Linked DNA regions of Homo sapiens: all the other regions are reported to be linked to region 3. The links are microRNA targets in miRTarBase. Many come from high-throughput screens and were not tested one by one. Region 3 holds a microRNA gene; each other region holds the end of a gene's coding sequence.
The links. Region 3 holds the annotated microRNA hsa-miR-5189-3p (UGCCAACCGUCAGAGCCCAGA, at 944-964, shown strand). A microRNA usually pairs through its seed, bases 2 to 8, with sites in the 3' UTR of a target mRNA and lowers its output. Matches are read on the target gene's strand: a 7mer-m8 pairs with bases 2 to 8, a 7mer-A1 pairs with bases 2 to 7 and ends in A, and an 8mer does both.

Region 1 (3,134 bases), not on the chromosome of region 3:
AATTAATGCCTACTCACATCAAGTTAGCACCACTCAAATGTGGGCCATTCACAGGCAGCCAGGGATCCTCTTGGTCCGTGAGGTTGGGGGCTTGCATCAGAATGCAAATCTACCGAGGCGTGAAGCACAATTTAGTTCAACTGACATTTTTTCCTTCACAGTAAGACCTTCTGGAGGAAGGAAGCAGTGTGTTGATTTATACCTTAGCCCAAGCTCCTTATTTCACTATCAAGCTACAAGTCCAGTAGAACTGATCTGTTACATCCCAATCACCACCCAGCAAAGACACTCTTGTTAAAAAGCTCCTTAACAAAGGGAAGATTTTCACTTAATTCACTCTTCTCTTAGTACCTGTCACCTTATTTGTCCTCTAAATTCAGAACCTGCTAGAAGACATAGGGTTTGAATCTGGCTTCGGGTCGAATGATGTTGCTGAATGCAGGGTTAGAAGTCTGTAGGGACGACACAGTCTCTGTGCTGCTTTCAGTTACTTTCTGTATTCAGTTGTTCATGTTGCTTGCGCATGCTTCAAAGCTTAAACCATTAGTTTAGGGATATGCACAGATACTGATGACTTCACATCACGATTTCCAAACACAAACTGCCATAGGGTCGAGCTAAAATAAAATTTGAGGCCAGGCACGGGGGCTCACGCCTATAATCCCGGTGTTTGGGAGGCCAAGGTAAGAGGATCACTTGAGGCCAGCCTGTATAACATACGGAGATCTTGTCTCTACTGCTTGTGGTCCTAGCTATCCGCGAGGCTGAGGCAAAAGGACCGCTTCAGTCCAGGAATTTGATGCTGCGGTAACTATGATCGTGCCACTGCACTCTGGCCTGGGTGACAGAGTGAGCCTGTCTCTCTCTTAAAAAGTAAATAAATAGTATCTGAAAGTGCCACAAATGGGGCGTTTTGCCCAGGAGAGGCATCACCAGCACCTGTGCCCATCTGCCCAACGTGACCACTCTGAAGAGGACGGTGACTGCTGGACAGATGAGTTTTGGACATATATAACCTCTCAATGTCTATTCTGTATTCACATCTTAGTGACTTTTTTCAACAATCAAAGGTAAGATTTAAATTGAGTCTGTAGCATTTGAGAGAGAAAAGCAAAATTGAAGGGCTGAGAAAACAATAAACATTTGGGTATCTGCAATACATGCTGTTATCTAGGGACATTTCTGCTTCCTCCCAGAATCAGTTTTCCATACTTAGTGAGTGGGGTGTGTTTGTTTCTCCCACTAGACGGATGTTAATTCTTTGCAGGCAGTAACTATATTTTCTTCATGTTTACATCTCCAAATCCTTGCAAGCAAGTAGCACCTATTAACAGTCAAATAACTACTGTTTGGTGACCTCAGAGTTGTTTAAGATGGTACATTTACAATCTGGAATTGGTGAGGAGATGAATATCCTCAACTGTGTGAGAATGTTACATGAATGATGAAAAGCACCTGTCTGCATTACAGTGTACATAAGGCCATATCCACAGGGCTTATGTCGACTGACTTTGCCAAAGTTAATTGCAACCTAAATACTTAAAACAGTATCAAGAATCACATTTAAGCTGGGCGTGGTGGCTCAAGCCTGTAATCCCAGCACTTTGGGAGGCCGAGATGGGTGTATCACCTGAGGTCAGGAGTTCAAGACCAGCCTTGCCAACATGGTGAAACCCATCTCTACTAAAATACAAAAATTAGCCGGGCGTGGTGGCGTGCGCCTGTAGTCCCAGCTAAAGAGGCTGAGGCAGGAGAATCGCTTGAACCCGGGAGGTAGAGGTTGCAGTGAGCTGAGATTACAGGACACTGCACTCCACTCTGGGTGACAGAGCAAGACTCTGTCTCAAAAAAACAATCACCTTTAAGGGATGGTTTTTGAACTTCTAACCAATATTTTAAAAAGGTAAAAACCTCATCAATTTCTTTATAACTGCACCCTCTAGTGGCCTGTTTTATCTATTAATTTTTTTTTTTTTTTTGACAGTCTCACTGTCAAAAGTCTCACTGTCCAGCCCAGGCTGGAGTACAGTGGTACAATCTTGGCTCACTGCAGCCTCTACCTCCAGGGTCCAAGCAATTCTTGTGCCTCAGCCACCTCAGTAGCTGCTATTACCAGCATGTGCCATCATGCCTGGCTAATTTTTATATTTTTAGTAGAGACAGGGTTTTGCCCAGGCTGGTTTCAAATTCCTGGCCTCAAGTGATCCGCCCACCTTGGCCTCACAAAGTGCTGGGATTACAGGGGTGAGCCATCACGCTCGGCCATATCTATTAAAAAATTTTAAGACAATCATACACACCAGCCTCACTGCTTAGAGAACCCTGTCCAGTGTGCCTGACCCCTTTTCCCTCCCTCCTTCTCCTCTCACCCCCAAGATAGTTATTTGAAAATGGCTTGAAATACAAACAATAAAACCTTAGATCAAAAAAAATCTCAAAATATAATACATTAACAGACAATGATATAGCTCTACCAAACATTCACACGCAGGCAACAGAATAAGCCTTTGGGTTTACCAAGGACATTTTACAGTCAAAGGGCCACCTGCCCTCCTTCCTTCCCTGACTACATTCTCAGGGAAGCTTTTCCTTGCAGACACTTCGTTGCAAGGTCAGCTTTCTCTCTCAGCACGTTGGCTTCGTCGGCGCTTCTGTGGGCCTGTGCGTTCTTTAGCAAGAAGTGGCTGATGAAAAGCTTCAAACCCTCACGTAACACCCCCAGCTTTGGGTTGTCAGATACTCTGGAAAGGAATCGTATAAACACATGTCAGGGCTGAGCTGGCCTCTCCTAGATCTCAATCCTGGGTATCTCGCATAGTGAGACATAACCAGTTTCTTTTAAAAATAAAATTCTCAATTAAGAACTTCTTAACATATTTTATTATTAACAATCATTGTTAGTTTGCTAGCAGACAAGTTTCTATTCCCCAGATCTAATGCATACCAGCTTAAAAATAAAACCGAAAAGATTAAGCTACACGTATAGTACAACCTTGTGTTTGTAAATCAACACAAGTGAAAACAATCTCTTCATTTCTCTTCCATGTCTCGTCGGAAAGGGTGGGGCACATACCTTGTGAAAATTAAACTGAGGTCTTCAACTTCTGTTTCCATTAATAGGATACTTAATACTT
Region 2 (3,132 bases), not on the chromosome of region 3:
ATGACAAGTTCTTCTCCCTTCTTCTGCATGTGCAGGGCATTGGTTGCTATATGTTCCGAATTGATGACTCAGAGGTAGTGGATGCCACCATGCATGGAAATGCTGCACGCTTCATCAATCACTCGTGTGAGCCTAACTGCTATTCTCGGGTCATCAATATTGATGGGCAGAAGCACATTGTCATCTTTGCCATGCGTAAGATCTACCGAGGAGAGGAACTCACTTACGACTATAAGTTCCCCATTGAGGATGCCAGCAACAAGCTGCCCTGCAACTGTGGCGCCAAGAAATGCCGGAAGTTCCTAAACTAAAGCTGCTCTTCTCCCCCAGTGTTGGAGTGCAAGGAGGCGGGGCCATCCAAAGCAACGCTGAAGGCCTTTTCCAGCAGCTGGGAGCTCCCGGATTGCGTGGCACAGCTGAGGGGCCTCTGTGATGGCTGAGCTCTCTTATGTCCTATACTCACATCAGACATGTGATCATAGTCCCAGAGACAGAGTTGAGGTCTCGAAGAAAAGATCCATGATCGGCTTTCTCCTGGGGCCCCTCCAATTGTTTACTGTTAGAAAGTGGGAATGGGGTCCCTAGCAGACTTGCCTGGAAGGAGCCTATTATAGAGGGTTGGTTATGTTGGGAGATTGGGCCTGAATTTCTCCACAGAAATAAGTTGCCATCCTCAGGTTGGCCCTTTCCCAAGCACTGTAAGTGAGTGGGTCAGGCAAAGCCCCAAATGGAGGGTTGGTTAGATTCCTGACAGTTTGCCAGCCAGGCCCCACCTACAGCGTCTGTCGAACAAACAGAGGTCTGGTGGTTTTCCCTACTATCCTCCCACTCGAGAGTTCACTTCTGGTTGGGAGACAGGATTCCTAGCACCTCCGGTGTCAAAAGGCTGTCATGGGGTTGTGCCAATTAATTACCAAACATTGAGCCTGCAGGCTTTGAGTGGGAGTGTTGCCCCCAGGAGCCTTATCTCAGCCAATTACCTTTCTTGACAGTAGGAGCGGCTTCCCTCTCCCATTCCCTCTTCACTCCCTTTTCTTCCTTTCCCCTGTCTTCATGCCACTGCTTTCCCATGCTTCTTTCGGGTTGTAGGGGAGACTGACTGCCTGCTCAAGGACACTCCCTGCTGGGCATAGGATGTGCCTGCAAAAAGTTCCCTGAGCCTGTAAGCACTCCAGGTGGGGAAGTGGACAGGAGCCATTGGTCATAACCAGACAGAATTTGGAAACATTTTCATAAAGCTCCATGGAGAGTTTTAAAGAAACATATGTAGCATGATTTTGTAGGAGAGGAAAAAGATTATTTAAATAGGATTTAAATCATGCAACAACGAGAGTATCACAGCCAGGATGACCCTTGGGTCCCATTCCTAAGACATGGTTACTTTATTTTCCCCTTGTTAAGACATAGGAAGACTTAATTTTTAAACGGTCAGTGTCCAGTTGAAGGCAGAACACTAATCAGATTTCAAGGCCCACAACTTGGGGACTAGACCACCTTATGTTGAGGGAACTCTGCCACCTGCGTGCAACCCACAGCTAAAGTAAATTCAATGACACTACTGCCCTGATTACTCCTTAGGATGTGGTCAAAACAGCATCAAATGTTTCTTCTCTTCCTTTCCCCAAGACAGAGTCCTGAACCTGTTAAATTAAGTCATTGGATTTTACTCTGTTCTGTTTACAGTTTACTATTTAAGGTTTTATAAATGTAAATATATTTTGTATATTTTTCTATGAGAAGCACTTCATAGGGAGAAGCACTTATGACAAGGCTATTTTTTAAACCGCGGTATTATCCTAATTTAAAAGAAGATCGGTTTTTAATAATTTTTTATTTTCATAGGATGAAGTTAGAGAAAATATTCAGCTGTACACACAAAGTCTGGTTTTTCCTGCCCAACTTCCCCCTGGAAGGTGTACTTTTTGTTGTTTAATGTGTAGCTTGTTTGTGCCCTGTTGACATAAATGTTTCCTGGGTTTGCTCTTTGACAATAAATGGAGAAGGAAGGTCACCCAACTCCATTGGGCCACTCCCCTCCTTCCCCTATTGAAGCTCCTCAAAAGGCTACAGTAATATCTTGATACAACAGATTCTCTTCTTTCCCGCCTCTCTCCTTTCCGGCGCAACTTCCAGAGTGGTGGGAGACGGCAATCTTTACATTTCCCTCATCTTTCTTACTTCAGAGTTAGCAAACAACAAGTTGAATGGCAACTTGACATTTTTGCATCACCATCTGCCTCATAGGCCACTCTTTCCTTTCCCTCTGCCCACCAAGTCCTCATATCTGCAGAGAACCCATTGATCACCTTGTGCCCTCTTTTGGGGCAGCCTGTTGAAACTGAAGCACAGTCTGACCACTCACGATAAAGCAGATTTTTCTCTGCCTCTGCCACAAGGTTTCAGAGTAGTGTAGTCCAAGTAGAGGGTGGGGCACCCTTTTCTCGCCGCAAGAAGCCCATTCCTATGGAAGTCTAGCAAAGCAATACGACTCAGCCCAGCACTCTCTGCCCCAGGACTCATGGCTCTGCTGTGCCTTCCATCCTGGGCTCCCTTCTCTCCTGTGACCTTAAGAACTTTGTCTGGTGGCTTTGCTGGAACATTGTCACTGTTTTCACTGTCATGCAGGGAGCCCAGCACTGTGGCCAGGATGGCAGAGACTTCCTTGTCATCATGGAGAAGTGCCAGCAGGGGACTGGGAAAAGCACTCTACCCAGACCTCACCTCCCTTCCTCCTTTTGCCCATGAACAAGATGCAGTGGCCCTAGGGGTTCCACTAGTGTCTGCTTTCCTTTATTATTGCACTGTGTGAGGTTTTTTTGTAAATCCTTGTATTCCTATTTTTTTTAAAGAAAAAAAAAAAACCTTAAGCTGCATTTGTTACTGAAATGATTAATGCACTGATGGGTCCTGAATTCACCTTGAGAAAGACCCAAAGGCCAGTCAGGGGGTGGGGGGAACTCAGCTAAATAGACCTAGTTACTGCCCTGCTAGGCCATGCTGTACTGTGAGCCCCTCCTCACTCTCTACCAACCCTAAACCCTGAGGACAGGGGAGGAACCCACAGCTTCCTTCTCCTGCCAGCTGCAGATGGTTTGCCTTGCCTTTCCACCCCCTAATTGTCAACCACAAAAA
Region 3 (3,134 bases):
CCCTCACGCCCCCGCGAGCCCACCGCCCCGACCCACCCGCGAGCCCACCGGCCGCTGACGCACCTGCGAGCCCACCGCCCCTCACGCACCCGCGAGCCCACTGCCCCTGACCCACCCGCGAGCCCACAGGCCCTGACGCACCCGCGAGCCCACCGCCCCTCAAGCACCCGCGAGCCCACCGCCCCTCAAGCACCCGCGAGCCCACCGTCCCGACGCACCCGCGAGCCCACTGCCTGCGGCGCACAGAGCCACCAGATCTAGAGGGAGAGCTGAGCACTCGGGGTGCTCTGAAAGTCATCATCATCATCATTTTGCAAAGAAAGCCCCCAAATAGCCCTCCCTGAAACAAGGCAGCCAAAAATAAGAAGTCGCTCTCAACAGGCCCCCACAGGAGAAAAGAGGCCGGCCTTGGAGAGGGGTTGGGACTTGGGGCCAGGTCCCAGCTGTGCCGGCCTCTTGGCTGTACGACCTTGGACCAGTATCTTTCCCACTCAGAGTCATCCCTGAATGGATGTCAGGGAGCCTTCGAGGAAAGGGGAGAGCCTGCACTGTAACTGAAGCCCCCCACCAGCCCCATGCAGCTTTCTGACCCTAGACTTGGGGCTGGGACCAGTCACCCAGAATCTGATACCCCCAGGGCCCCGCCCCCCAGAGCCCCACCCCCATGGCCAGGGCACCACTGTCCTAACCAGCCTGTTGGCAGCCAATGGAAATGGGGTATGCAAATGAGCAGGGGTGAGGCCCAGGGATTGGCTGAGCTGCTGTGTGGGGGCAGGGCCTCCTCCAGGGGCTGCCCTTGACCTGGGGGAGTAGTTCCCATCCTGGACCCTGCCCCAGGACGGGAGACCTCTGCCACCACCACCACCGGCTCTGGAAGGGCCCGCCTTTTAGGGGCCTCGCTGTCTGGGCACAGGCGGATGGACAGGCTGGCCTCTGGATGACCTGCCAACCGTCAGAGCCCAGACCCACGTGGCCTCAGTTGGGGACCAGGACCCAGGAGTTCCCGAGAGGAGTGCAGCCAGCAGCCACTCCCAGATGGGAACAGCGAGTTTCACAACCCGGCAGGGACGGCCCTGGGGCCAGCCAGCCTCCCACCCCCATGTCTGGGCCCACTCCAGACCCTCCTGCAGGCTGCCCCCCACCGCTCCACCCTCTCCCCGCGCTGACTTCCATCCGGAACCTCATTCTGCCAAGCTTCTGAAGTGCCGGCCGGGCCAGGGACGTGGCACCATCTTAATGAATGACAGTCCCAACCCCTTTGCCCACCCTCAGCCTCCCCATCTGTAAAACCGGAAGGCGGTCTAGTAGGTCTGCCTCCCAGGATGGTTTCTGGGCTCTTCAGCAAGCCCCTTGCCGGCCTGGGCCTCAGTTTCCCCTTCCACACCATGAGGCTGAGGTGGCAGGTTCTCTGGGGGTCCTCCTGTCTGTGGCTGTGGCATAGCCTGGAAACCTGGGGTCTTCCAGATTTCCCATTGTCAGAAATTCATGTGCCAGGAGACCATGTCTACAGGGGGCTTAGGACACCTTAGGGGGCATGCACCTGTGTTCTGCATCCACCCACACTGCACAGTGGGTCTTGCTGGCAAGACCAGGATGAGGCAGGCTCCGCCGGCCTGAGACCTGGCTGGAGGCCCTGTCAGCTCCCACGGCACCTGAAAATCAGCCACAGGTGTGGGTGTTTGTCAAAAATGTGTAAGTGGAAAATAGTGGCGGGGCGAGGAGAGAAAGAGTCTGGGCTGAGATCTAAGGAGAGGAAGTAGGGAGGGGCCGTCCGACCAGAACCAGACATCACCTTGGCCAGGGCCCCACCCCCTAACGTGGGGTGCAGTGCCTCTCACGTGGTGAGGGTCAGAGGTGCGTGCCCAGCCCAGAGGATCTCCCCACGCAGCCCTCCCAGTCTGCAGAGGGGTCTCCACACATGCAGGCAGCTCTGTCCTCTCCCAGGACAGCTTGGGGCATACAGTAGGTGCTCCATAAATACTCCCCAGCTGATTTCTGGATCTGCTCCCTGTGCCTGGCTGTGTCCCCAGAGGCAAAGCAAGCAGAAGGAAAAAGGAAACGGAGAAAAAGCCAGGGCCTCCAGAGCCAGCATTGTCCTGGGCAAAGGCCCCTCCCGTGTAGGAGCATCGCCTGTGGAGAGCCACGGTCCTTGTCCCTGTGCTGGGGCTGTGACTCACTCCTGCGGGGTCCTTGCTGTCAGGGCCACCCCACCTGTCCTGGGGACAGGGCTGCTGGACGGGTTGGGGCGGGCAGCCTCTGGATGCCCACGGGTGTCCCCTGTACTCTCCAAACCTGTACTGAGTGCCTGCTGTGTGCTGGGCATGGTCCAGGGACCCCAGGTGACCTCATGGAACCCCAGCCTAACGAGGGAGAGTGAACACAGGGGTCTGACGTGCTCTGTGGCAGAACCACTGGGGAGGCTGTTGTTGGGGGACTGGTGGTGTGGAGGGCCGGGTGGTGACACTCAGTGACAGGTGAGGATGTGGCACGGTGTGGAGGGCCGGGTGGTGACGCTGAGTGACAGGTGAGGATGTGGCACGGTGTGGAGGGCCGGGTGGTGACGCTGAGTGACAGGTGAGGATGTGGCACGGTGTGGAGGGCCGGGTGGTGACGCTGAGTGACAGGTGAGGATGTGGCACGGTGTGGAGGGCCGGGTGGTGACGCTGAGTGACAGGTGAGGATGTGGCACGGTGTGGAGGGCCGGGTGGTGACGCTGAGTGACACGTGAGGATGTGGCACGGTGTGGAGGGCCGGGTGGTGACGCTGAGTGACAGGTGAGGATGTGGCACGGTGTGGAGGGCCGGGTGGTGACGCTGAGTGACAGGTGAGGATGTGGCATAGGGAAACACATCCTCGCCGAGCGCACAGTGGGAGCTCCGAGCAGGGGATGAGGTCGTCCAGGAAGGGGCGGGAGACGCAGCGTGACGCACTGACCCAGGGCCCAGCTCAGATGCCAGTACCTCACCCGGTGGGGTCCAGCCTCCGCGACAGGCATTCCCTTCCCCGTGTGCCCTTGCCAACTACATACTGGGCTGCCCAGAGGCTGCCTTCTGAAGGAGCGAGGGGGCCGGGAGGAGGAAAGCCCAGCTCCCCTGCAGCCATGATAGATAGACCAGACTTTTCCTCTCCACTTA
Region 4 (3,134 bases), not on the chromosome of region 3:
TAAGAAAATACTATTTGTTAAATTTTAGTCATAATTTCATTGTTTCTCATCATAGACTGCAGATGCAAACATTTAATGGTGAACAAAATGTTTATCTCAATTTTTCTTTGACATTTTTATGCTTTGAAAATTCAGAATGGATAAAAACAAATGAAGTACAAAATATTTCAGATTTACATAGTGATAAACAAGAAAGCACTTATCAGGAGGACTTACAAATGGAAGTACACTCTAGAACCATCATCTATCATGGCTAAATGTGAGATTAGCACAGCTGTATTATTTGTACATTGCAAACACCTAGAAAGAGATGGGAAACAAAATCCCAGGAGTTTTGTGTGTGGAGTCCTGGGTTTTCCAACAGACATCATTCCAGCATTCTGAGATTAGGGTGATTGGGGATCATTCTGGAGTTGGAATGTTCAACAAAAGTGATGTTGTTAGGTAAAATGTACAACTTCTGGATCTATGCAGACATTGAAGGTGCAATGAGTCTGGCTTTTACTCTGCTGTTTCTTTCACACTTTAGATTTTAAAAGTACGTCTCAAGGAATCTTTCTTTCCAATTTGAGAACTCAACTCACTTTAAAATGGAAACACGCAACAAAAAACAGATGCTGCTTTCTAGAACTCCATTGTCATGAAATATAATATTTGCTAAAATAAGAGATTTACTTTAAAAATTAGAGTGCTTATTTCTTGCAAAGTACACCATGGAAAACCCTCGGGGGAAAATTGTTGCCAAATGTATCCATTAACTGTATTTAAAATTTCTGATTGCCTTTTTGACCATGTTATTGCTAAATAGCAAAACAAACAAAAACAAAAACAACAAAAATCCTATATCCCAGCTAGATTTCTTCCTTTAGCATATGGTAGTGTCTTCGATATTTTGTACAATGTGTAGTATTTTAAATAGTAAAGAAGTGACCATGCATCAAGCTGAAGGTAGTGACTAATGCTCAAGAGCTAGCTCTTTAAAACTATAAATATGGTTACTATGAGTATATCCACTAATGTCTCATAAGACACTCTTAATGATATCCTATCAGCCCTGAAAAAATGGCTGCTGCTATGCAACTCCAAAGAGTTACATAGTTACGTATAGTGAATGGACAACACAAATAGGTGGGTTTTTTTTGTTTTTTAATAATATGAATTTAAAATAGCCACAAACAGGGTGAGTGCATGTAAGCGGCTGAACTGCCAGTACAGGGGAAGGTAAATGGGCCTAAACTATGATACCTAGCAAGGGTTGGATCTGTGCAGGCTTCTATGTACAGAGACAAGCAGGGTTAGGCACTTAAAGCTTTTTGATGAAAATCCTGGGAAAGAGCTGAGCCTACATTTATTATTATTACTATCAAAACAACAACATACTTTTCATGAAGAAACATGCAATCAGAAACATTACAGAGACTGAAGAGAGCTTAAGAGTTTTCTGAAAATGAAATGACATGTTTTTCCAGAGTATCATCTCAATTATAAAATTTGATGGTTTTATATTATCATATTTCTTCAGTGGTAAATACCTCATTAAAAAATTATTAAAAAATTATTGACAATACAAAGCCCTAGTTAGTATACAGATATTACTATACTGGTACCCATCTTGTAAGGAAAATATCACCATCTAGATATCTTAAATATCTTCTATCATCCAATATCTTAAACCAATTTCTTAAATTGTTTTATTCAAAGGTACTTTTGTCGTCTTGCCCCTATTCTTCTATCATCAATAGTCCTTTTAAAAATTATAATATTCTACATATACAAAATAAAAATCTAATGTCATAAAAATCTCAAAAATGTAATGTTAGTAGTGTTGATTATCTAAAGAACTCAGCTTCATGGAATACCTTTCAATATTTATTGCCCAGATGTATTAAAGAGAATTCTTAAATGTAATGCATCAATGGTCCTAATACATCTGTAAACAGAATACCACTAAAAAAATTTTACTGGCATGAAATACTATACTTATGGTTGTGTGAAACTTTTAAATCTTAAAGCCTCTTAACATAATCATGTGTATCTATGTACAAAACATACATAAATTTCACTTTATTTAAAACATATGAAAGAGGTAATTTCAAACCACACTAAACATAATAAATATAGAACTCGCTTTGTTAAAAATCTACAGTATACATTCAAGTAAAGGCTAAACTTCCAATGCCAACTATATTTGAGACAAAATTAAACATTTACAATAATCAGTTTCCTAAAAGTGCTATTTTTAATACCTATAAGAGGAAACTCAGTCTAGTGCTTTTGTTTCCATCCAAACATCTATACATTCCTTTATTCACAGAACCAGATGCTTCTGTTACTAAAAATACATATCCAAAGCTTTTATATCCTTTTAAATAGATTTAAGATTTCAACTCTTTGGGGGAAGACAGGGAAGTCCAAACAAACAACTCAGACCATCTTAAGTTATTAGAGATAACTGACTTTATGACACACCCTGTTTCAACTTAGATGTGAAACTTGATGAACACATTAATGAAAAAAATTCCAGTCCACATGTCTAAGGTAAGTCATCTTTTTCTACATGAGAATTTGTGTAGCTCAAGGAGCATCCACTATAGCAACCTTCCTGTGATCCAGGTCTTGATGCCACACTCCATTTTTGATTTGTACATTCTCCTCCAACCTGATTTGGTTTAATTTCTTCAGCAGTTATATTCAGTACATTGATTGAACTGTTGGGAAAAGAAAGGCAGATCTTAGTGACTATCCTCTCCTTCTTTTGTACTTTAACCTCATAATGTGGCACTCTTCAAAAAAAATAAGTTCCTTTTAATTCTAAAAATCTAGGCCAAAAATATAATTTAAAATTTTACTTGGAAAAAAAAAACGGCTGGGAGCAGTAGCTCACACTTGTAATCCTAGCACTTTGGGAGGCTGAGGCAGCCGAACTGCTTGAGCCCAGGAATTCAGGACTAGCCTGAGTAACATGGTGAAACCCTGTCTCTACAAAAAATTAGCTGGGAGTAGTAGTGCATGCCTAGTTTAATCATTTGTACAAGGGATTCTGATGACCAAATTACTATAAATTTATTTACCAATACTTATAGTAATTCGGTCATCAGAATCCCTGTACAAATGATCAAACTAAGTTTTTTAGG

Region 1: the mRNA of NOM1 is a reported target of hsa-miR-5189-3p. Seed matches in the 3' UTR shown: 7mer-A1 at 1,658-1,664.
Region 2: miRTarBase lists KMT2A as a target of hsa-miR-5189-3p. Seed matches in the 3' UTR shown: 7mer-m8 at 677-683.
Region 4: miRTarBase lists SSX2IP as a target of hsa-miR-5189-3p. Seed matches in the 3' UTR shown: 7mer-A1 at 2,177-2,183.

What each region holds. Positions count from the first base shown.
Region 1 is chr7:156,969,136-156,972,269 of GRCh38, reverse strand. It overlaps NOM1 (nucleolar protein with MIF4G domain 1), which reads right to left. Exons shown (of 11, transcript NM_138400.2): 10 at 3,074-3,134; 11 at 1-2,741. The coding sequence ends at 2,567. Among named protein-coding and RNA genes, the nearest start is that of NOM1, 21 kb to the right of the region's middle.
Region 2 is chr11:118,521,862-118,524,993 of GRCh38, forward strand. KMT2A (lysine methyltransferase 2A) reads left to right here. Exons shown (of 36, transcript NM_001197104.2): 36 at 36-3,132. The coding sequence ends at 311. The region is part of intron 1 of TTC36-AS1 (TTC36 and KMT2A antisense RNA 1); the gene reads right to left. Among named protein-coding and RNA genes, the nearest start is that of TTC36, 4.0 kb to the right of the region's middle.
Region 3 is chr16:88,468,041-88,471,174 of GRCh38, forward strand. It overlaps MIR5189 (microRNA 5189), which reads left to right and starts at 878; the gene lies at 878-991. All of the region lies in intron 1 of ZFPM1 (zinc finger protein, FOG family member 1), which reads left to right.
Region 4 is chr1:84,644,900-84,648,033 of GRCh38, forward strand. SSX2IP (SSX family member 2 interacting protein) reads right to left here. Exons shown (of 14, transcript NM_001166293.2): 14 at 1-2,708. The coding sequence ends at 2,534. Among named protein-coding and RNA genes, the nearest start is that of LINC01555, 11 kb to the left of the region's middle.